Linked DNA regions of Homo sapiens. Each later gene encodes a partner of the first gene's protein in a complex. Each region holds a gene or a part of one and is shown in the gene's direction. Other genes may lie near its edges.

Region 1 (6,957 bases):
GGTTTTATTTTCTGCATTTTACTTATTCTAGCAAACATTTTAAGTGTTATTAGATTTTTAAATTTCTCGAAAGTTATACATAGTCTTACACTATGCATCTTCCAGTATTTAGCTTTTTGTTAAATCATGTAATAGAAAGGTGATTACTGCTAATTAAACATTGGGAATTTATGCACCTAATGGTGGTGTTAAAAGATACCCATAGCAGAGAATGTAATATAAACAAATACCTCAAAGTCCTTTAATTTTCTTGTAACCTAAATTAGGTGAAAGGTGCAATGTGTCTGAACTCCAATATATGTATTTCTAGATATTTCTACATTCTGTTTAAAAACAGTAAAATTGAAATGTCTTTATCAATTGTGCTATTTGTAGGTGGAGACTCCCTGATCTATTTTTGTCATTAGGTTGATCTAGGTTAGCACTGTATACTATCTTCATAAAATCAATTAGTGTGGTATGAACCTTCTGATTGGTATTAGATGAGTTCCTCTATAAACCAGTAATATTTAAATAAGAAAGAATGCAGTTAGGAGGCAATTGTAATAGCCCTGGCAAAGGACGATGGAGCCTTGAACCAAAATACTGGTTGTAGAGATGGAGGAAAAATCAGGCAGTATTTAAATGATAGAATTCGAGACCTGTTGACAGATTTCAGACTGAAAGAGTTAAAAGTGGCTCTTGGGCTTTTGCTAGTACCTTTAGGGTTGCCTGGGAGTATAGAATTCATTTTCATATGTTTTGCTTGTCATCAGCCAGGGGAGCTATATCCTGTAGACAGCCAGAAATAAAGACATTTATTGAGCGAGATGGGTAGACTAAAGATATCTTCGTTGTAAGTGGGTATAGATGAAGTGGCCAAGGAGTGGAAAAAAAGGATAAAATTGGTCACATCTAGACATAAGAGACAGGAGTAAGAGCCTTTGGCAGTATATGGTAGGAGGAAAATCAAAGTACTGTTACGAAGGCCAAGAAAAATTTTGAGAGTTTTTCCATGCAGTTTTGGATGCTGCAAAAAAATGAGATAGTCTTTATCTTGACATTTATTAAGTATGTATTTGTTGGACATAGTTCTAAGTGTTTGACACATACTAATTTTTTTATGGGGGGTGACCAGGTGAATACCCCTTGTGGGCATGGTATACTGTGTCACCCCACTTACTGGGCACATTTATGTCATTTCACAGAAATGAGGAAGCTGAGGCAGAAAAGGTTTAGTAGCTTGTCCATATTGCATTGCCAGAAGAAGAAACAGAGCTAGGAAATTCTAACCCAGTAGTCAAGTTACAAAGTCTCATTTTAGTTTCTATGCCATATGGCTTCACATTGAAGCATGCTTGATGGATTGGGTGACTGACTAGTAGTCATTGGTAAACTCAGCATTTTCAGGTGATGAGTTGGAGCTGGATGTCATTTTAAAATAGTGGATTGTTTGGAGAGAGGAAATTGGTATGAGTAGTAGTGCCTTCCAAAATTTGGGGAGGGATAAGGGCAAGCATTTAAAATATAACTAAGGTTTCAATTTAGTTTTAGGCTAAGCGATGTGAAGATATTTATGTGGTAATGGGCAAATTAGTGGAAGAATAGTTGAGTCCAGGGAAGAGGTAATACGGAATGAAACTGGAAGGTGTACGCGAATTGGAGTTAGGGATAAGCAGGCAGGGAATAAATTGGCCTTGGACCGTAAAGAAGGTACACCATTTCTTACACATGTGTCACATAAATTTTCAAATGTATGGCTATGTTGGGAAAGCTTAATGGCCCAATGAACTTGGAAACTTTTTGTATTCATTTGCTGATAGGGTCTAATATTTTCTGGGAAATGACTTACTTGGAAAATACTAGCTTTATTATTTACTGATTGGTATAACTTTGCAGTATCAAAGTTAGTCTGTTTTAGTTTCTTTCTTTCTTTTTTTTTTTTTGAGACAAGTCTCACTCTGTTGCCCAAGCTGGAGTGCAGTGGTGTGATCTCGGCTCACTGCAACCTCCGCCTCTCGGGTTCAAGCAGTTCTGCTGCTGCAGCCTCCCCAGTAGCTGGGACTACAGGCGCACGCCGCCACACCCAGCTTGTGTGTGTGTTTGTGTTTTAATAGAGACGGGGGACTACAGGCCCACGCTGCCACACCCAGCGTGTGTGTGTGTGTGTGTGTGTGTGTGTGTGTGTGTGTGTTTTAGTAGAGACGGGGGACTACAGGCACACGCCGCCACACCCAGCTTGTGTGTGTGTGTGTTTTAGTAGAGACGGGGTTTCTTTTCTTTTTCTTCTTTTTTTTTTTTTTTGAGACGGAGTCTCGCTCTGTCGCCCAGGCTGGAGTGCAGTGGCGCAATATCAGCTCACTGCAAGCTCTGCCTCCCAGGTTCACGCCATTCTCCTGCCTCAGCCTCCCGAGTAGCTGGGACTATAGGCGCCCGCCACCACGCCCGGCTAATTTTTTTGTATTTTTAGTAGAGATGGGGTTTCACCGTGTTAGCCAGGATGGTCTCGATCTCCTGACCTCATGATCCACCCGCCTCAGCCTCCCAAAGTGCTGGGATTACAGGCTTGAGCCACCGCGCCCGGCCTGAGACGGGGTTTCACCCTGTTGTTCAGGCTGGTCTGGAACTCACCCTGAGCTCAGGCAGTCTGCCCACCTTGGCCTCCCAAAGTGCTAGGATTACAGGTGTGAGCCACTGCACCTGGCTTGTTTTAGTTTATCTGTAAATGGTGAATGAAGCCAGGTAGTCTGGAGTGTTGCACCAGCAGGAGGTTTCCATGTAATCTAGTGATGTATTAGAAGGAACATATAGCCGGGCACAGTGGCTCATGCCCTGTAATCCCAGCACTTTGGGAGGCAGAGACAGGCGGATCACCTGAGGTTGGGAGTTCGAGGCCAGCCTGACCAACGTGGAGAAACCCCATCTCTACTAAAAATAGAAAATTAGCTGGGCGTGGTGGTGCATGCCTGTAATTCCAGCTACTCGGGAGGCTGAGGCAGGAGAATTGCTTGATCCTGGGAGGAGGAGGTTGCGGTGGGCTGAGATTGCACCATTGCACTCCAGCCTGGACAACAAGAGCGAAAGTCCATCTCAAAAAAAAAAACAACAGCAGGAAGGAACATACTATCACAACAAGATGTTGAGGAATAATCAGTTTCACTATATAAGGTTGGGGTTTTAATATTCCAAAGAAAGCTCAAAATGATCTTTGTTCTCAGTGACATGCATTTAGCTAAAACTGGACATTTATATCTTGATCAGCCCATTGTTATAGACTCTTTATATAGTCCCTTCTCCTGCCTTACTAGAAAGGGAAAGTAGCCTGTTTTAATTTAGTAGGTGATTGATTTAGACATAGTGGCTAACTCTAAACACAGTATACAGAAACAGTTTAATTACTCTGTAGAAATACGTATTTGGGTACCAGTAGTCTTATTTTTGTTTTGTGAGTGTAGGTTAGGTCTGTAATTTTGAATTATGTTCCACAGAGCAGCTTCAGTGACAGAGGAGCCAGTCATTTGGGGATTTGGTTCTTTTCCTCTGTAAACCTAGGATAATTTTACTTAGGTCAGCATGAAAGTACAGTGGTATGATTGGTCAAAGATATATTTGAAATATTATCATAAGGTATCATAAAGATTGGTTAATCTTTAGGAGTCAAAGTCACATTTCAATTGCTACCTCCATTGGTATTTTTCCGTTAAAAGTTTTTGGGTTTTTCTGAGACGTGGGGTCTTACAGTTTGGCCAGGCTGAAGTGCAGTGGCTGTTCACTGGCACGATCCCACCACTGAGTAGGCTTTAAGAGTTAATACGTTTCATTTAGGTTACATTTTATTATTAATCTGTGTATTTGGATTGTGGTCTTTCTTTCAAACAGAATTCAAAGAAGCTTTTTCACTATTTGACAAAGATGGTGATGGAACTATAACAACAAAGGAATTGGGAACTGTAATGAGATCTCTTGGGCAGAATCCCACAGAAGCAGAGTTACAGGACATGATTAATGAAGTAGATGCTGATGGTAAGTCTTCAATTTTGTGGGGCTGGGAGGGGTTGAAGAAGTGATACTTAGATGTTTCCACTAAACCTTTGCTGTTTGCTTATATGTTTCCACTAAAGCTTTGATGTTTCCACTAAACCATTTCAGGTAATGGCACAATTGACTTCCCTGAATTTCTGACAATGATGGCAAGAAAAATGAAAGACACAGACAGTGAAGAAGAAATTAGAGAAGCATTCCGTGTGTTTGATAAGGTACGTCAAGGACTGGATATGTTAAATTTTGAGGATGAAATGAAGATACCAGGACTCATTATGAAGACTTGTGTTTTTTTGGTTGTTTTTTTTTTTTTTTTTTTTTTTTTTTTTGATGATTTACCAACATATTTTAATTACCAAGCAAAAGCTTTTTAAGAATTCAGTATAGACTTTCTAATATATGTATTGCGTTCATCTTGTCAAAGGAGGTGTCACTTGACTTTGGGACTAGGAAATAATGATTTCAATGTAGGACATTTTGCTTGGCTCTTAATGACATTTGTAGGTCAACTGTGTAGATTTGTATGCATTTCTAAAGTATGTTTTTCCCCCAATGTGAAATTTAGTAGTAAACTTAATAAATTTCCATTCCAACTCTCAAGTCTGTAATTTGACTCAGAAACTATACTAAATTTTTTGCTAGGATGGCAATGGCTATATTAGTGCTGCAGAACTTCGCCATGTGATGACAAACCTTGGAGAGAAGTTAACAGATGAAGAAGTTGATGAAATGATCAGGGAAGCAGATATTGATGGTGATGGTCAAGTAAACTATGAAGGTAAATGTTTCAGTCTCACGCCTCATTCTTCACTTTGATTTTTAAGATAAGAGGCTCTTTGTTAGGGAACTGATCGAAATTAGTGACCCTTCCCCTGAAATTAGGTTGCTAAAACAGTTACTTACATTTAACCTTCTTAAAATTCAGAGTGTTGTCTGCAGACTAGGTAACATTGCTCTGACTTGAGAACTTAATTTAGAAATATTTACTATCAGGTTCTATCCCTACACCTGGAATCAGCATTTTAATAGGATTCTTGGGTGATTCATGTATAAAGTTTGAGAAGCACTGTTCAGTGTTTGTGTGATTGTGGAACAATGTGGAAAGCAAACTTATTCCAAGTTTCCTAAAATGAAATTAATGTGACTTTCTTTCCCCGCACTGTATTGTCTTTTTTCTTTAATTGGCTTTAGTCTGAAACTGAAGTTTACATGTGCTTCAAAAGTATCGTATCTACTAACTTTTAAGATGGCCATATCAGGAAGCAAGGCATATGAAACTGAAGGATTTTGAGTAAAACTCTGTATTTTTTTCATGATGTAACTACTTAACTTAGAAAAGAGCATAAAATGTAATGTTATAAAAATTAAACCTAGCCCATAGCATTGAATTTACAATATTGTCTTGTAATCCAGCAGACTTAAAATTCAAGTCTAAACTAAGAGCCAAGAATGCTCTTTTTTATATTGGCCTATCTAAAGCGTTAATTTGGCTCTTACTAATAAACCTGAATAGTTATGGTTAATGAAGTTCCAGCCTGGGCAATAAACTAGCTTCCCTCTGTACTTAATGGTAATTCTGAGGAAAGAGAGGAATGGAAAGAGTACTCAGTAATTGAGTAAATGTGATTTTTTTTTTTTTTTTTTTTTTTTGGTCTTTTGCTATTGACTCATTTTTTGTGTACTTCTTCTTTTTCAGAGTTTGTACAAATGATGACAGCAAAGTGAAGACCTTGTACAGAATGTGTTAAATTTCTTGTACAAAATTGTTTATTTGCCTTTTCTTTGTTTGTAACTTATCTGTAAAAGGTTTCTCCCTACTGTCAAAAAAATATGCATGTATAGTAATTAGGACTTCATTCCTCCATGTTTTCTTCCCTTATCTTACTGTCATTGTCCTAAAACCTTATTTTAGAAAATTGATCAAGTAACATGTTGCATGTGGCTTACTCTGGATATATCTAAGCCCTTCTGCACATCTAAACTTAGATGGAGTTGGTCAAATGAGGGAACATCTGGGTTATGCCTTTTTTAAAGTAGTTTTCTTTAGGAACTGTCAGCATGTTGTTGTTGAAGTGTGGAGTTGTAACTCTGCGTGGACTATGGACAGTCAACAATATGTACTTAAAAGTTGCACTATTGCAAAACGGGTGTATTATCCAGGTACTCGTACACTATTTTTTTGTACTGCTGGTCCTGTACCAGAAACATTTTCTTTTATTGTTACTTGCTTTTTAAACTTTGTTTAGCCACTTAAAATCTGCTTATGGCACAATTTGCCTCAAAATCCATTCCAAGTTGTATATTTGTTTTCCAATAAAAAAATTACAATTTACCCAATGGTTGCTCTGCATCTGAGTCATTTAACTGTTGAAGTCTAATAATTTTGAAAATAAAATATGGCATTGGTTTCTGCTTGGTATAGTCTAGATAATTTTTTCTCGTGTGGGGAAGCATATGGAGATGGGTGGCAGAAATAGTGAAGGTGGGAAAGGAAGGAGAAAAGGATTGGAAAAGTGAGAAAAGAGGGAGAGAAGCACAGAAAATAAGAGGAACAAAATAAGGGGTGTAACTAAGGAGAGATTGAAGAGGAAGGCCGAAAAGATGGGGATCTATGGGGGCTGGCTTAGTGTAGTCACCTTTTGGGGGCCACCATCATGCGTGCCCACAACATTCCTCCACCACCATGTGTGTCGTACTGTGCTACTGTGTTAGATCCAGGATACCTGTGAGTTGCCTCTGCCCACAGAACAAGATGGTGGCAGTCATGGGAAAAGAGGGGCAAGTTTTTTGTTTTGTTTCTTTATCCAGATTGTATTTGACAACTTCAAAAGGCCCCAATGAAAGACTCAAAAACTTAAGTGTACCTAGTATGGGAATTGGCATAAAGTAGGTATTTACTGTTTCCTACCTTTATAGTTTTCAACTTTGGCATTTGTC
Region 2 (6,992 bases), on another chromosome or scaffold:
TTCAAGTGTTTCTCGTGCCTCAGCCTCTTGAGTAGCTGGGATTACAGGCGTGTGCCACCATGGCCGACTAATTTTTGTATTTTTAGTGGAGACGGGGTTTCACCATGTTGGCCAGGCTGGTCTCAAAATCCTGACCTCAAGTGATCTGCCTGCCTTGGCCTCCCAAAGTGCTGGGATTATAGGCATGAGCCACTGCGCCCAGCCTACAATTTTTTTTTTTTTAAAGATTGGGGTCTTGGGCCAGGCGCCCAAGTGGAGAAACCCCGTCTCTACTAAAAATACAAAATTAGCCGGGCATGGTGGCGCATGCCTGTAATCCCAGGTACTTGAGAGGCTGAGGCAAGAGATTCGCTTGAACCCGGGAGACGGAGGTGGCAGTGAGCCAAGATCGCGCCATTGCGCTCCAGCCTGGGCAACAAGAGCAAAACTCCGTCTCATAAAAAAAAAAAAAAAAGATGGGGGTCTTGCTATGTTACCCAGACTGGACTCGAACTCCTGGGCTTAAGTGATCCTCCTGCCTCAGCCTCCCCAGTATCTGGACTACAGGCTCGTGCCAGTGCACCTGGCTACCATTCTACTTTATAATAATTTTTACTAATGGCCTCTCAAAGTCCTGAGACTTCAGCCATCTGTGTTGCCAGCCATTAGGAGCAGGCACCAGCACACTGTGGCCTGCAGGTGGATTGGATGTGAGGGTCCCTCAGGGGAAGAGGTGGGTCTGTTTTCCAGATTGAGCACATGGGGTGGCCATTCCTGGGGGCCTGGACAGATGGCAGGAACAGATTTTGGGGAGCCGTCACAAGTGTGGGTTTAGACACAGGGTTCAGGTGCCTTTAGGACATCCAGGGGGCCAAGGCCCAGGCCCGTTAGGAGCAGCAGCAGGGGAAACCCTGGGCCTCCACACCCTGGTTGAGGTGGGACAGGCTGCTGACCACTCCCTCGTGTGTCCCCATAGCTCTCAACAGCCTGACGGGCGAGTTCAAAGGGAAGTACTACCCTCTGAAGAGCATGACGGAGAAGGAGCAGCAGCAGCTCATCGATGACCACTTCCTGTTCGACAAGCCCGTGTCCCCGCTGCTGCTGGCCTCAGGCATGGCCCGCGACTGGCCCGACGCCCGTGGCATCTGGTGAGGCCCCTCCCCGCCCCCTGGCTTCCTCTTCCCCCAGCCTCCTCCAGTCCTGCAACGGCCCTCCTCACTCCTCCACCAAAACCAAGGCCATATACGTAATTATGATCTTCTAAATGCCACGGAAAATGATCTTGCCCTCCGCCCCTGCCCATCCTGTGGTCTGTGTGTCAGATTTTGGGATATCTGGACCGGAGAAGTGGTAGTTAAAAACTTAAGACTTGGCGGGGCACGGTGGCTCATGCCTGTAATCCCTGCACTTTGCGAGGCCAAGGCGGGGGGATCACTTGAGGTCAGGAGTTTGAGACCAGCCTGGCCAACACGGTGTCTACTAAAAATGACAAAAATTTAGCTGGGCGTAGTGGCAGGCGCCTGTAGTCCCAGCTACTTGGGAAGATGATGCAGGAGAATCGCTTGAACCCAGGTGGCGGAGGTTGCAGTGAGCCGAGATCGTGCCACTGCACTCCAGCCTGGGCGACAGAGCCAGACTGTCTCAAAAAAAAACAAACAAAAAAGAAAGAACTTAGACTTGGCCGGGCACAGTGGCTCACACCTGTAATCCCAGCACTTTGGGAGGCTGCAGCAGGAGGGTCGCTTGTGCCCAGGAGTTCTAGACCAGCCTGGGCAACATAGGGAGACCACGTCGCTACAAAAATTAAAAAAAAAAAAAGCCAGGCGCGGTGGCTCACGCCTGTAATCCCAGCACTTTGGGAGGCCAAGGTGGGCGGATCACGAGGTCAGGAGATTGACACCATCCTGGCTAACACGGTGAAACCCCGTCTCTACTAAAACTACAAAAAAAAAAAAAAAATTAGCCCGGCGTCGTGGCAGGCGCCTGTAGTCCCAGCTACTTGGGAGGCTGAGGCAGGAGAATGGCCTGAACCCAAGAGGCGGAGCTTGCAGTGAGCTGAGATCGTGCCACTGCACTCCAGCCTGGGCGACAGGAGACTCCGTCTCAAAAAAAAAAAAAAAAAAAAAAAAAAAAAAAAGCCAGGCGTGATGGCGTATACCTGTGGTCCCAGCTACTCGAGAGGCTGAGGATCAGCTGGGCCCAGAGGATTGAGGTTACTGTGAATCATGACCGAGGTACTGCACTCCAGCTACCTGTCTCAAAAATAAGAACTCAGACTTGAACCGTACTCCCTAGGTTCAAATCCCAGCTCTACCATTTACTAACTTTACTAGCTTTGTGACCTTGGGCAACTTATTTTATTTTTCTCTACCCCAGTTTCCTAGCTATAGGATAGGGATCACAATAATTTGTAGTTTCTGGTGTTCTTGTGAGGATTAAATGAGTTAATTTATGTAAAGTATTAAAAGCAGTGCCTGGGCCAGGCGCGGTGGCTCACGCCTGTAATCCCAGCACTTTGGGAGGCCAAGGCGGGCGGATCACGAGGTCAGGAGATCGAGACCATCCTGGCTAACATGGTGAAACCCCGTCTCTACTAAAAATACAAAAAATTAGCTGGGCTTGGTGGCAGGCGCCTGTAGTCCTACTTACTCGTGAGGCTGAGGCAGGAGAATGGCGTGAACCCGGGAGGCGGAGCTTGAAGTGAGCCAAGATCGCATCACTGCACTCCAGCCTGGGCGACAGACCAAGACTCTGTCTCAAAAAAAAAAAAAAAAAAAAAAGCAGTGCCTGGTATACACTAAGTGTTCAGTACATCTTGGTTATTCGTCTTATCTTTATTATAAAGTATTATTGCTAGACTTGTTTTGACTCTTTGAATCCCTGATTCAGATAGTCAAAGATTTAGAGAACCTAGGTTTCAATCGATGAAGGGAGCCTGGGTGCTAAGATATACAGATGGGATGATTCTAAGATTTCAAGATTTTAAATATTTTTAGGTTTTAAGATTCCACTCATTTATTTATTTATTTATTTTGAGATGGACTCTCACTCTGAGGCCCAGGCTGGAGTGCAGTGGGTTGATCTCGACTCACTGAAACCTCCATCTCCCGGGTTCAAACGATCCTCTCACCCTCCGCCTCCTTAGTAGCTAGGACGACAGGCATGTGCCACTGTGCCCAGCTAGTTTTCGTATTTTTGGTAGAGACAGCGTTCTGCCATGTTGCTCAGGCTGGTCTCGAACTCTTCACCTTAAGTGATCCGCCCACCTCAGCCTCCCAAAGTGCTGGGATTACAAGCGTGAGCCACCATGCCTGCCCTCAGGTTTTTTTTTTTTTTTTTTTGAGACAGGGTCTTGCTCTGTTGCCCAGGCTGGAGTGCAGTGGTGGGATCATAGCTCGCTGCAGCCTGGACCTTCCAAGGTCAAGTGATCCTCCCGCCTCAGCCTCCCCAGTGGCTTGGACTACAGGCATGTGTCCCACCATGCCTGCTAATTTTTTAAATTTTGTAGATATGTGGGTCTTGCCATGTTGCCCAGGGTAGTCTTGAACTCCTGGGCTCAAGCAATCCTCCGGCCTTGGCCTCCCAAAGTGCTGGGATTACAGGCATGAGCCACCACACCCGGCCATTTCCGGATCTTAATATTTTATGTTCTTTTTTTTTTTTTTTTTTGAGATGGAGTCTCGCTCTGTTGCCCAGGCTGGAGTGCAGTGGCGCGATCTCGACTCACTGCAAGCTCCACCTCCCGGGTTCTCGCCATTCTCTTGCCTCAGCCTCCTGAGTAGCTGGGACTACAGATGCCCGCCACCATGCCCAGATTTTTTTTTGTATTTTTTAGTAGAGACAGGGTTTCGACGTGTTAGCCAGGATGGTGTCGATCTCCTGACCTTGTGATCCGCCCGCCTCGGCCTCCCAAAGTGCTGGGATTACAGGCGTGAGCCACCGCACCCAGCCTTAATATTTTATGTTCTAAGATCCTGCTTCTGAGATGCTAGGATTGGGAGCTAACACACTACGATGGGAAGATTTTCTGGTCCTGAAACCAGATGTAGGATTACCAAGTGTTATCAGTTCTGATCCCAAGCTTCTGTTTGTCAAACATCCTGAGATCCCAAGGATCTATAATAATACTGTTCAAAGACTTAAGTCCCTAAAAGTCCTTGATCCCAGGATTCAGCGTTTTGCAGATCCTGTGACATTAGAGTCTACAGGTTTAAGCTTCTGCGTTTTGAGGAGGCAGATGCCACCCACCTCCCACCCCTCAGGCCCTCTTCCCCCATCGGTGGGCAGATGTTTTGGGGGAGGGCTGGGAATGGGGTTCCCACGGGGCTGACACCTTGGCCTCTTGCTGCGGCACCTTACTCTAGGCACAATGACAACAAGAGCTTCCTGGTGTGGGTGAACGAGGAGGATCACCTCCGGGTCATCTCCATGGAGAAGGGGGGCAACATGAAGGAGGTTTTCCGCCGCTTCTGCGTAGGGCTGCAGAAGGTGGGTGTCTGCCCTTAGCTGCTGACTTCTGACTCCACCTTGAACGCCCCACCTGCTTTCCGAGGCCCCGCCCCTTCCCCTATACTAAGCCCTGCCCCACCCATTTTCCAGGGCCCTGCCCCCCGGACCTGGCTCCACCCCATGCCAAACCCCGCCCCCCAAAACTAGCCCCACCCGCTTTTCAGGGCCCCGCCCCTGGACCCAGCTCCACCCTATGCCCAAGCCCCGCCCGTAAGGATCCGCCTTCAGGCCGGGAGCGGTGGCTCACGCCTGTAATCCCAGCACTTTGGGAGGCTGAGGAGGGTCAGGAGTTCAAGACCAGCCTGGCCAACATGGTGAAACCCCGTCTCTATACTAAAAAATTAATAAATAAATAAATTATCCAGGCGTAGTGGCGCGCGCCTGTAGTCCCAGCTACTCGGGAGGCTGAGGCAGGAGAATCGCTTGAACCTGGGAGGCAGAGGTTGCAGTGAGACGAGATCACGCCATTGCACTCCAGCCTGGGTGACACAGAGAGACTCTGGAAAAAAAAAAAAAAAAAACCCGCCTTCAAAGCGTTCTTAGTCCCCGCCCCTCAAAATCCTGCCTTGGTCCCCATTGTCTAGCCAGCACCCTCGGAATCTCCTACCTCCCTGTTCCCCTCAGAATCCCACCTCCACCACGTTCCCACGCCCTGTCCCTCCGGACCCTGTCCATGTTGCGGGTGCATTTGGGGGTGCCTGCCGGCGCTGACCCCTGGTCCTCTCTCTGAACCTCAGATTGAGGAGATCTTTAAGAAAGCTGGCCACCCCTTCATGTGGAACCAGCACCTGGGCTACGTGCTCACCTGCCCATCCAACCTGGGCACTGGGCTGCGTGGAGGCGTGCATGTGAAGCTGGCGCACCTGAGCAAGCACCCCAAGTTCGAGGAGATCCTCACCCGCCTGCGTCTGCAGAAGAGGGGTACAGGTACGGCTCCCACATCCTTTGCACCACGACGGAGGGGGAGCGAGGGCCCTTTGCAGGGATGCAAGGAGAGGTGCGACATCCCTGCGAGTTCTGGGGATCCGGCAAGGGCTGACCCTCTGTGAGCTTGCATTTCTTCCTCTGTAAAATGGGTGTCAATATGCCTATGTGATAGGAGTCAATGTGGGATTTTCATGATTATATAATATGCATTGCACATGCCCTTGGACCTCCCTCGGGGCCTCAGTTTCCCCATTTATAAAGCGAGGAGTGGTCAGGATTCGACCCTAGGCCGCCTGGCTCCAGAACCCACTCTCTTACCCACTATACTATGTTTGATAACTGAGTGGCGTGGTACCCCATCTGAAGTCAGAGACTCGTGAGCTCACGAATGAACAGGCATTACCTGTGTGCAGGTAACCTGTTACACAGTAGGCACTCACTACATGCGGCTGTTGCATTTGGCACGGGGGCCACGTCCCAGCCCCTCTGCACCTTCGCTGCCTCTTCACGCCCCTGTCCCTTGCTCCCACAGGTGGCGTGGACACAGCTGCCGTGGGCTCAGTATTTGACGTGTCCAACGCTGATCGGCTGGGCTCGTCCGAAGTAGAACAGGTGCAGCTGGTGGTGGATGGTGTGAAGCTCATGGTGGAAATGGAGAAGAAGTTGGAGAAAGGCCAGTCCATTGACGACATGATCCCCGCCCAGAAGTAGGCGCCTGCCCACCTGCCACCGACTGCTGGAACCCAGCCAGTGGGAGGGCCTGGCCCACCAGAGTCCTGCTCCCTCACTCCTCGCCCCGCCCCCTGTCCCAGAGTCCCACCTGGGGGCTCTCTCCACCCTTCTCAGAGTTCCAGTTTCAACCAGAGTTCCAACCAATGGGCTCCATCCTCTGGATTCTGGCCAATGAAATATCTCCCTGGCAGGGTCCTCTTCTTTTCCCAGAGCTCCACCCCAACCAGGAGCTCTAGTTAATGGAGAGCTCCCAGCACACTCGGAGCTTGTGCTTTGTCTCCACGCAAAGCGATAAATAAAAGCATTGGTGGCCTTAGCTTTGTGCGATAGTTATTGAGGGAGGACGTGCAATTGGCCACTGTGTGGTCTCAGAGTGGTTTGTCCTGTCTAGGCATGTACTAAACATGTCTTATCCCGGGTCTAAAATGAGGCAAAGTTAGGTCACAGAATCTAGTCCAAAAATTAGAAGGCTCTATGGGGAATCTGAGACCCAGAGAGACACTGAGCCCAGTGTCACTCACCCAAAGCATGGGCCCTTTCCAACTATGGCTTTGAATTAGTCATGCTCAGATCTCAAACACGAGGTCCACGCTGGGGAGGAATGCAGCCAAACGAAATGTCTGAAACTTGAATTTAGCCCAACGGTCTCCAGTTTTGAGACCTCCCATGCAGCTCGTCACATCTACCTATATTCTGCTTCTCAGTGGCCTCCTTCTGTCCCGTCTGACTTCATCCCTCTGTAGCTGCTGCCAGTCCCTTACTTTCTCAAGAACCTGCCATGGCTCCCCATTTCTCCTAGAAAGCTTTTCTGTTATTTTGCAACTCAAGGCCACACTGAAATGCAT
Region 3 (7,029 bases), on another chromosome or scaffold:
CTCTCAGACCACTCTTTCCAGACTACAGGTTCTCTTCCTATTAACTCTTCCCCTCCAGCAGAGCTTCAAGGGCCATCCTCACAGGAGAATCACCATGATGTGAATTGCAAGGAAGGCCCTGGGGCTGACCCTTGCCCAAGTCCACCCTCGGTCATTCGAGTCCAGTAGGCACTTCTTTCCAATTTGTCACTGCACGCTGTGTGAGTCACGTTGGTCTTAAAGAATGTCTTAGATCCCCTTTGCTCTTGGCCTCATTCTGCTATGACTGTCTCTTCCAAACTCACGTTCACCTTTCCCCAGGATTCTAGAGTCTCCACTGCTTCGAGCATCCAAGGAAAATGACCTGTCTGTTCTTAGGCAACTTCTACTGGACTGCACCTGTGACGTTCGACAAAGAGGTGGGATCTGGATTTAATGGGATGGAGGTGGGGGCAGAAGAACCTACTCCTCCTCCCCAAGACTTCGAGTTTGTGAAATAGGGCCTTGGAGGGTGTCTCTGGAGCCTGAGGCCCCTTCCTCAAGGGAATCTGAAAAGTGTCTAACATCTCTGTCTTACTCCAATCCAGGAGCCCTGGGGGAGACGGCGCTGCACATAGCAGCCCTCTATGACAACTTGGAGGCGGCCTTGGTGCTGATGGAGGCTGCCCCAGAGCTGGTCTTTGAGCCCACCACATGTGAGGCTTTTGCAGGTAAGGAGCCTACATGGTAATTCAAGGTGGAAACTTTGAGATGGAGGGTGTGCTGTTGTCTCTTAAAATTGGCCTCTGAAGGATGGGTTGGGGTGGGGTGATGGAGGGTCAGGAGGATGGGCTCCGTTGAGTTGGGAGAAATGCAAAGGTCCTGGTCTTGGCTTTTACCAATCTGTGGCTTCCTTCAGCATTTCCTTTCAAACCTCCCATAGTCCCTGTAGGACCTATCTCAATTTCTTTCTCTCATAGCAACATGAGAATGATTATATTCATAGCAATCCCCTGCTGGCTCCCAATAACTGAAGGGTAGGTCAATGAGCAGGGCAGCCTGAGGGATGAATTGCTCTTAGTCCCAGGCCACCCTGCCAAGCCCAGGGCAGAAGTCTAGCAAAGATCTATCAGGAACCTCCTGAGAGGGATGGTGGGGGATGCTGTGTCCCTGAGAGAACTGGGGACAGAGGGAGACCCTGATGATGGCTGTCTCTGGGCCAGGTCAGACTGCACTGCACATCGCTGTTGTGAACCAGAATGTGAACCTGGTGCGTGCCCTGCTCACCCGCAGGGCCAGTGTCTCTGCCAGAGCCACAGGCACTGCCTTCCGCCATAGTCCCCGCAACCTCATCTACTTTGGTGAGAGCAGGGTTGGGCTTGAAGGATGGTTGGCTGGAGAGGCGGGCAAGGCAGAGGGAGGCCAGGGCATGAGGGTCCTGCCTTCAGCTCCATCTGTTGGGCAGTTGAGAGGGGCAGCCCTTCTAGGGCTTAATTAAGCCAGAGGCCCATTCCCCTGATGGTTCCTTCCTCTGGTTCTGCTGGACGAGTGTCCCTCAGCCTAGAACTGAGATATGGGGGATGAGGAGGAGGCCCTTATTTGGGGGAGACTGCCCACCCCATCCTGCCATCCTGCGTTCTCCTGCCATGGATCTCTCTGTGTCCACAGGGGAGCACCCTTTGTCCTTTGCTGCCTGTGTGAACAGCGAGGAGATCGTGCGGCTGCTCATTGAGCATGGAGCTGACATCAGGGCCCAGGACTCCCTGGGTAAGAGCTGGGATGGGGAGGGGAGCTGGGATGCTGTGGGGAGCGAGGGACAGGGTAAGGAGTGGAGCTGGGACCTTTAGGAAGACCCCAGAGTGGGGATGGGGACATCAGGGACTTTAGGCCAGTGGCCACATGATACCCTGCGTCCTCCCCAGGAAACACAGTATTACACATCCTCATCCTCCAGCCCAACAAAACCTTTGCCTGCCAGATGTACAACCTGCTGCTGTCCTATGATGGACATGGGGACCACCTGCAGCCCCTGGACCTTGTGCCCAATCACCAGGGTCTCACCCCCTTCAAGCTGGCTGGAGTGGAGGGTAACACTGTGGTAAGAGACGCTCCCCATCCCTGAGGTGTCTTTCTAATGACCCTCAACCTATCCTGCTGGCCCTGGGAGAAATAGAGGTGAAGGGCCCACCTTTCTCTAAAATCCCTTTTCCCCAAACTCCCCAAAGGGATGGTGGTCCCTTGCTTCCTATTCCATCACTGAAATCTTCAGCTTCATGGTCCTTGACTCAAGAGGATTTGAGAACCTTACCTTAATGCATGTGCTGTGATAACCCAAAGCTCTAGCTTCCTTTGCCTATTTTCTTCTTTCTGCACTTTCTGGGGTTTTGGAGCAGGAAAGATGACAAAAAAGGGAAAGCTTGTAGATGCAGAGGTTTGCTGGTTCCCACTGTCTGTCTGTCTCAAGGGGTGGGCAACTGGCTCCATCCAATGGAGTTGTTCTCCTCGACCACCTTCTCACACGTTGGCCCCCTGACTCATCCTGGTGGTCTCTCAGATGTTCCAGCACCTGATGCAGAAGCGGAGGCACATCCAGTGGACGTATGGACCCCTGACCTCCATTCTCTACGACCTCACGGAGATCGACTCCTGGGGAGAGGAGCTGTCCTTCCTGGAGCTTGTGGTCTCCTCTGATAAACGAGAGGTATGGATGCCAAGGAGGATCAGGCCTGTCATGTGAGGGAATTTAGTGTTTGTGCAGAGTCTGTCCACTTACTAAGATCCTGGGCCTGAGACACTTCCCAGCCTTATAATAGGTGGAGATGAGAATAGTCTCCTGGGACATGGGGGAAAGTCCAATGCACACTCCTCTCCTGAATCCCCTGTCTCTCTGCTTAGCTCCAGTCCCTTCTGCCTACCTTTCGCCTTCTATCATTTCAGATGAGAAACTCCAAATAAGAGCTGTTTCCTCATATTCATTCATTGGTTCAGCATTGATATGGTTTGCATTTGTGTCCAAATGCAAAAATTTCATGTCAAATTGTAATCCACAGTGTTGGAGAAGGGGCCTGGTGGGAGGTGATTGGATCATGGGGACAGACTTCCCTCTTGATGTTCTCGTGATAGTGAGTTTTCACAAGATCCGGTTGTTTAAAAGTGTGTGGCACCTCCCCCTGCTCTCTCTTCCTCCTGCTCTCTCTTCCTCCTGCTCCGGCCATGTAGGATGTGCCTGCTTTCTTCTTGGCCTTTTGCCATGATTGTACGTTTCCTCAGGCCTCTCCAGAACCTGTACAGCCTGCAGAACCATGAGCCAATTAAACCTTTTTATTTATAAATTACCCTGTGCCAGGTAGTTCTTTATAGTAATATGAGAATGGACTAATACAAGCATATTGAACACCCGCTGTATGTCAGGCACTGCACAAGAAACAAACAGTACAGAAATAAATACAACACAGTTCCTGTTCATCAACTTCCTCAATTCTCAGTCCCTGTCCTGAATAATTGCAACAGAGCATGACATATGCCGTAATAGTTGTGTGTACCATGCATGCAGACAGCCACATTGAGGTAGAGTTAACTTGGCTTGGATAGACCAGAGAAGATGTCACAGAGGAAATGCTGGGGCTGGATCTTCAAGGAAGAATTGGGAGTCACAGGAAGATGAGAGAAAAAAAAGAGCTTTTTAGAGAGGGAGCAACGTATAGACCATTCAACAATGCTGGGTTGAGTGATGTGAGGGAAACGAAAATTTGTTGAAGACTGCAGTAGAGAGGAGAAAAGACTTCCAGGTTTCAGAACGTTCCATGAGAGTGCCAAGATGTAGTTTCTGTTTTGTATCTGCCACAGTGACAATTTCCCAGGAATCCTTATAGATCCAGAAAACATGAATGATTATTAATACTAACGAATAGAAGAAAAGTTGAGTGGCTAGTTTGTGAGATCTTCCTCAGAGAATATCCCTGGAAACAGATACACTTTGAGCAGGATTTCTTAGGTATTAAAAGCACAATCCCACTGTGTGGATTTCGCCACCACATATCCTTGGTCTTTGATTTAAGCTATTCTCAATATTCTCCAGCAGGTTTCATAAGTGTCTTGGGTCAGTTGCTTTTTTCCTCCATAAATCTTCCTTTCTAGCCCCCTTTCACATCCTTCACTACCTTCAGCTGCAGTTCAGAAGACCTAGACTCCTGATTTAGGACAAAAATAGAGGCTTTCTGGCTGGGGATCCTTCAGCTTCCTGCCCTACACTGCCGAGCATGTCTGGAAACTGCCCACTGTCTCTCTCCTCCCCTCCAGCTTCAGTAGAAAAGATATTCATGCTGTTAATGGCTAATCACTCTACTGTGCTTTGAATCTGTCTCTTTCTAATTTCTCAGATGCCTCCTCCCGTCCATCATCCCCTCTCCTGTGTATCTTTAACGTCTCACTGGCTGCTTATTTCAGAGCACCATCCCACCCTGCCACATCCTACTGCCTGTAACCTCCATTGCTTCTTTCCAGCCCAATAATACTTCTAGAGCAAATCTGACCACTTCCCTGCTTGAACTCCCCAGTTGCTTTCTGTTATATTTAGAAAAAACAAAAAATGCAAACTTCCTACCTTGGCATTTATGATGCATGATGACCTGGCCCTGTTCTTCCTCAGTCATTATCATTTCTGACTACCACTCCCAATAGATTCTCCCCTCTCCCCAACCACATCTCAACTGCAAATGGGCAATGGCTTCTCAGACCTTCCTGACCTGGCAACTGCTGTTAGCTTATGGTATGATCTTTCCTAACTCTCCCTTTACTCATCTAACTACTACTCATCCTTTAAATCCTCTTTGGTGCTATGGTGCCTTGTGTTTACTGCTATAGTCATTTACCTGTATCACTAGCACAAGGCCCAGCCATATGCAGGAAATATACTATTTGTCCGTCAAATAAGTGACTGATGAGCTGAGTGAGTGATGGTTGCTGCCCTGCCTCTTCTGGCCCCCAGTGGGATAAACAACATCCTTCTGTGTTGGTCACCCCAAGTTTCACTCTACTTCCATGCCAGGCTCGCCAAATTCTGGAACAGACCCCAGTGAAGGAGCTGGTGAGCTTCAAGTGGAACAAGTATGGCCGGCCGTACTTCTGCATCCTGGCTGCCTTGTACCTGCTCTACATGATCTGCTTTACTACGTGCTGCGTCTACCGCCCCCTTAAGTTTCGTGGTGGCAACCGCACTCATTCTCGAGACATCACCATCCTCCAGCAAAAACTACTACAGGTGATTCTCCTCAGAAGGGGATGAGAGAGAATTGCATCAAGGGGTGATGGTGCTGGAAACGAAGCCATGCTACTCAGGGACGATGCCACGCTCTGGGTTCCAGCAGGTGTAGGCTCCTAAACACCCAGGTAGAAATTAGACATGAGACCAGGAGGCCACAGATGGGGTTTAATGAGCACAAGAGCATTTGTCCAGGGAGCTGTGGATTTTCTCACACAAACTTTGAAAGAGTGCTTGGCATGAGTAAGCCTGTGCTTTTGTGAAATTTTTTGGTAATTTACAAAAAGTATCAGGGTTTTTTAGTGGGATGTTCAAGGTAAACTCTATTGCTCAAAAGGAGGAAAATTGTGCTCCAAGTCCATTTCTGAGTCCATTTTTGTTGTATTTGGGCAACACAGACAGCCCTGCTGGCCTGCACCCTCTTCTGTGTGCTGTCTATATGGGCCCATGGGAATAATGTGTCAGCTGTCTGACTGCCTGTCAGACACTCTGCAGAAGGATGTCTGGATTGGGTATCAGGCTGAAGTAAATACTCTCTGAGGCTCCATTTAGTGTTGTGGGCCTGCCATTCTGTGTTGTGGTGGCCAAGGGAAAACTAGGGTTAGGAAGAGGACTGATTCGAGGTACACAGTAAATATAGAAATCTGCTGTTGAAGAAAGTAAACCTCCTTTTTGTGCAACAGAAAGGGTAGACTCTAATGAGCACTTCTGAATATATATATTTAACAACTGTAGCTATATTTGAGGGGTTGACTCTTTGTGGATTACTAAAATTTTTGTCCTGGTGAGCTGAAAATACACAGAAGGTGATGTAGGTATGTAGCAGAAAGCAAAAGACCAGGAAAAAGAATTTTGCAAAGCAAGTGAGAACTGAGTGATTGGAGATTTATCTCAATGCAGGAGAGAGCAGCCATAGGTATAGCTCAGCCTGGACTAGGAAGCAGGGTAGTTTCAGTCGGAAAGAGAATATAAACTTTCTATAGCCAAGAAGCAAAAATCCTGAATTTGTTTAGACCAAAGACAGCGATATGCACAGAGAAAGAACAGGGCAAAGAGCCCAAATGAACCCTATGCTAGGTAGAGACACTCCATCTCTCCTGTTTTTAGAATTGCCTTTATATATATACATGTATATGTATATATATATATATATGTATATATATACATGTATATGTCTATATATATATATATGTATATATATACATGTATATGTGTGTATATATATATGTATATATATACATGTATATGTATATATATATATATGTATATATATACATGTATATGTATATATATATATATGTATATATATACAGTGTGTCATGTGTCCAGATACACTGCCTCTCACCAAGTAGGTCTTGCTGCCTGGGGAGGACAAGCCTGAATGTGTTAGAGACACTGGAAGCAGTTGTGCTGCATGCATCTCAGTCTGGCCGCAAAAGTTGTCCCTGGCATGGAGACATGAGGAAAATAAGGACAGTTAGGAGATGGCAAGTGGAGGGAGGAGTGATTAGAAATTGAGAAAACACAAACAAGGTGGGGATGACTGGACTTTTCCAATGCTCCTGGCCCTATTTCCTCAGATATGTCTTCTCCAACCTTCCTTTGTCTCAAATTTACTTGGAGATTTTCTGCATTTTGAAGGTAGACAGGACTCTGGGTTAAAAGGTGGGCAATGCTGAGCCACTGATAACCAAAACTCTCCTTCCTGTGTGTCTCTTTCTCTTTGGGACAGGGCTAGTTATGTACAATCACATTTCTTTGATCCAGATAGTCTGTATGTAAAAGACCGCCTCCTTTGCTTCAGGACTCAG

What was found. The genes of interacting proteins can lie anywhere in the genome.
Region 2: the proteins of CALM2 (region 1) and CKM are in contact, whole or in part, in a crystal structure (PDB 7BF2), measured with the Homo sapiens proteins. Residues at the interface, in NP_001734.1 of Homo sapiens: Glu85 (codon at 4,203), Ile86 (codon at 4,206), Ala89 (codon at 4,215), Val92 (codon at 4,224), Phe93 (codon at 4,227), Met110 (codon at 4,705), Asn112 (codon at 4,711), Leu113 (codon at 4,714), Gly114 (codon at 4,717), Glu115 (codon at 4,720), Leu117 (codon at 4,726), Met125 (codon at 4,750), Glu128 (codon at 4,759), Ala129 (codon at 4,762), Phe142 (codon at 5,719), Met145 (codon at 5,728), Met146 (codon at 5,731); in NP_001815.2 of Homo sapiens: Pro306 (codon at 5,364), Phe308 (codon at 5,370), Glu310 (codon at 5,376), Ile311 (codon at 5,379), Leu312 (codon at 5,382), Arg314 (codon at 5,388), Leu315 (codon at 5,391), Arg316 (codon at 5,394), Gln318 (codon at 5,400).
Region 3: the proteins of CALM2 (region 1) and TRPV5 are in contact, whole or in part, in an NMR structure (PDB 5OEO), measured with the Homo sapiens proteins. Residues at the interface, in NP_001734.1 of Homo sapiens: Lys22 (codon at 3,888), Asp23 (codon at 3,891), Ala89 (codon at 4,215), Val92 (codon at 4,224), Phe93 (codon at 4,227), Ile101 (codon at 4,678), Ala104 (codon at 4,687), Leu106 (codon at 4,693), Arg107 (codon at 4,696), Val109 (codon at 4,702), Leu113 (codon at 4,714), Gly114 (codon at 4,717), Glu115 (codon at 4,720), Leu117 (codon at 4,726), Asp119 (codon at 4,732), Glu120 (codon at 4,735), Glu121 (codon at 4,738), Asp123 (codon at 4,744), Glu124 (codon at 4,747), Met125 (codon at 4,750), Ile126 (codon at 4,753), Glu128 (codon at 4,759), Ala129 (codon at 4,762), Val137 (codon at 4,786), Phe142 (codon at 5,719), Met145 (codon at 5,728), Met146 (codon at 5,731); in NP_062815.3 of Homo sapiens: Thr675, Ala682, Pro684, Ser686, Ser687, Leu688, Ser689, Arg690, Thr691, Gln694, Ser696, Ser697, His698, Gly700, Trp701, Ile703, Leu704, Arg705, Asn707, Thr708, Leu718.

The regions. Positions count from the first base shown.
Region 1 is NC_000002.12:47,159,564-47,166,520, reverse strand, and holds the end of CALM2 (calmodulin-2), read left to right. Parts: intron 1-3,858; coding exon 3,859-4,002; intron 4,003-4,128; coding exon 4,129-4,235; intron 4,236-4,662; coding exon 4,663-4,798; intron 4,799-5,716; coding exon 5,717-5,745; 3' UTR 5,746-6,437; downstream 6,438-6,957. UniProt on the Homo sapiens protein: Calmodulin acts as part of a calcium signal transduction pathway by mediating the control of a large number of enzymes, ion channels, aquaporins and other proteins through calcium-binding. Calcium-binding is required for the activation of calmodulin.
Region 2 is NC_000019.10:45,305,884-45,312,875, reverse strand, and holds the end of CKM (creatine kinase M-type), read left to right. Parts: intron 1-955; coding exon 956-1,127; intron 1,128-4,343; coding exon 4,344-4,467; intron 4,468-5,225; coding exon 5,226-5,415; intron 5,416-5,947; coding exon 5,948-6,126; 3' UTR 6,127-6,463; downstream 6,464-6,992. UniProt on the Homo sapiens protein: Reversibly catalyzes the transfer of phosphate between ATP and various phosphogens (e.g. creatine phosphate).
Region 3 is NC_000007.14:142,923,718-142,930,746, reverse strand, and holds part of TRPV5 (transient receptor potential cation channel subfamily V member 5), read left to right. Parts: intron 1-300; coding exon 301-398; intron 399-566; coding exon 567-689; intron 690-1,181; coding exon 1,182-1,319; intron 1,320-1,626; coding exon 1,627-1,725; intron 1,726-1,880; coding exon 1,881-2,056; intron 2,057-2,512; coding exon 2,513-2,659; intron 2,660-5,005; coding exon 5,006-5,218; intron 5,219-7,029. UniProt on the Homo sapiens protein: Constitutively active calcium selective cation channel thought to be involved in Ca(2+) reabsorption in kidney and intestine. Required for normal Ca(2+) reabsorption in the kidney distal convoluted tubules.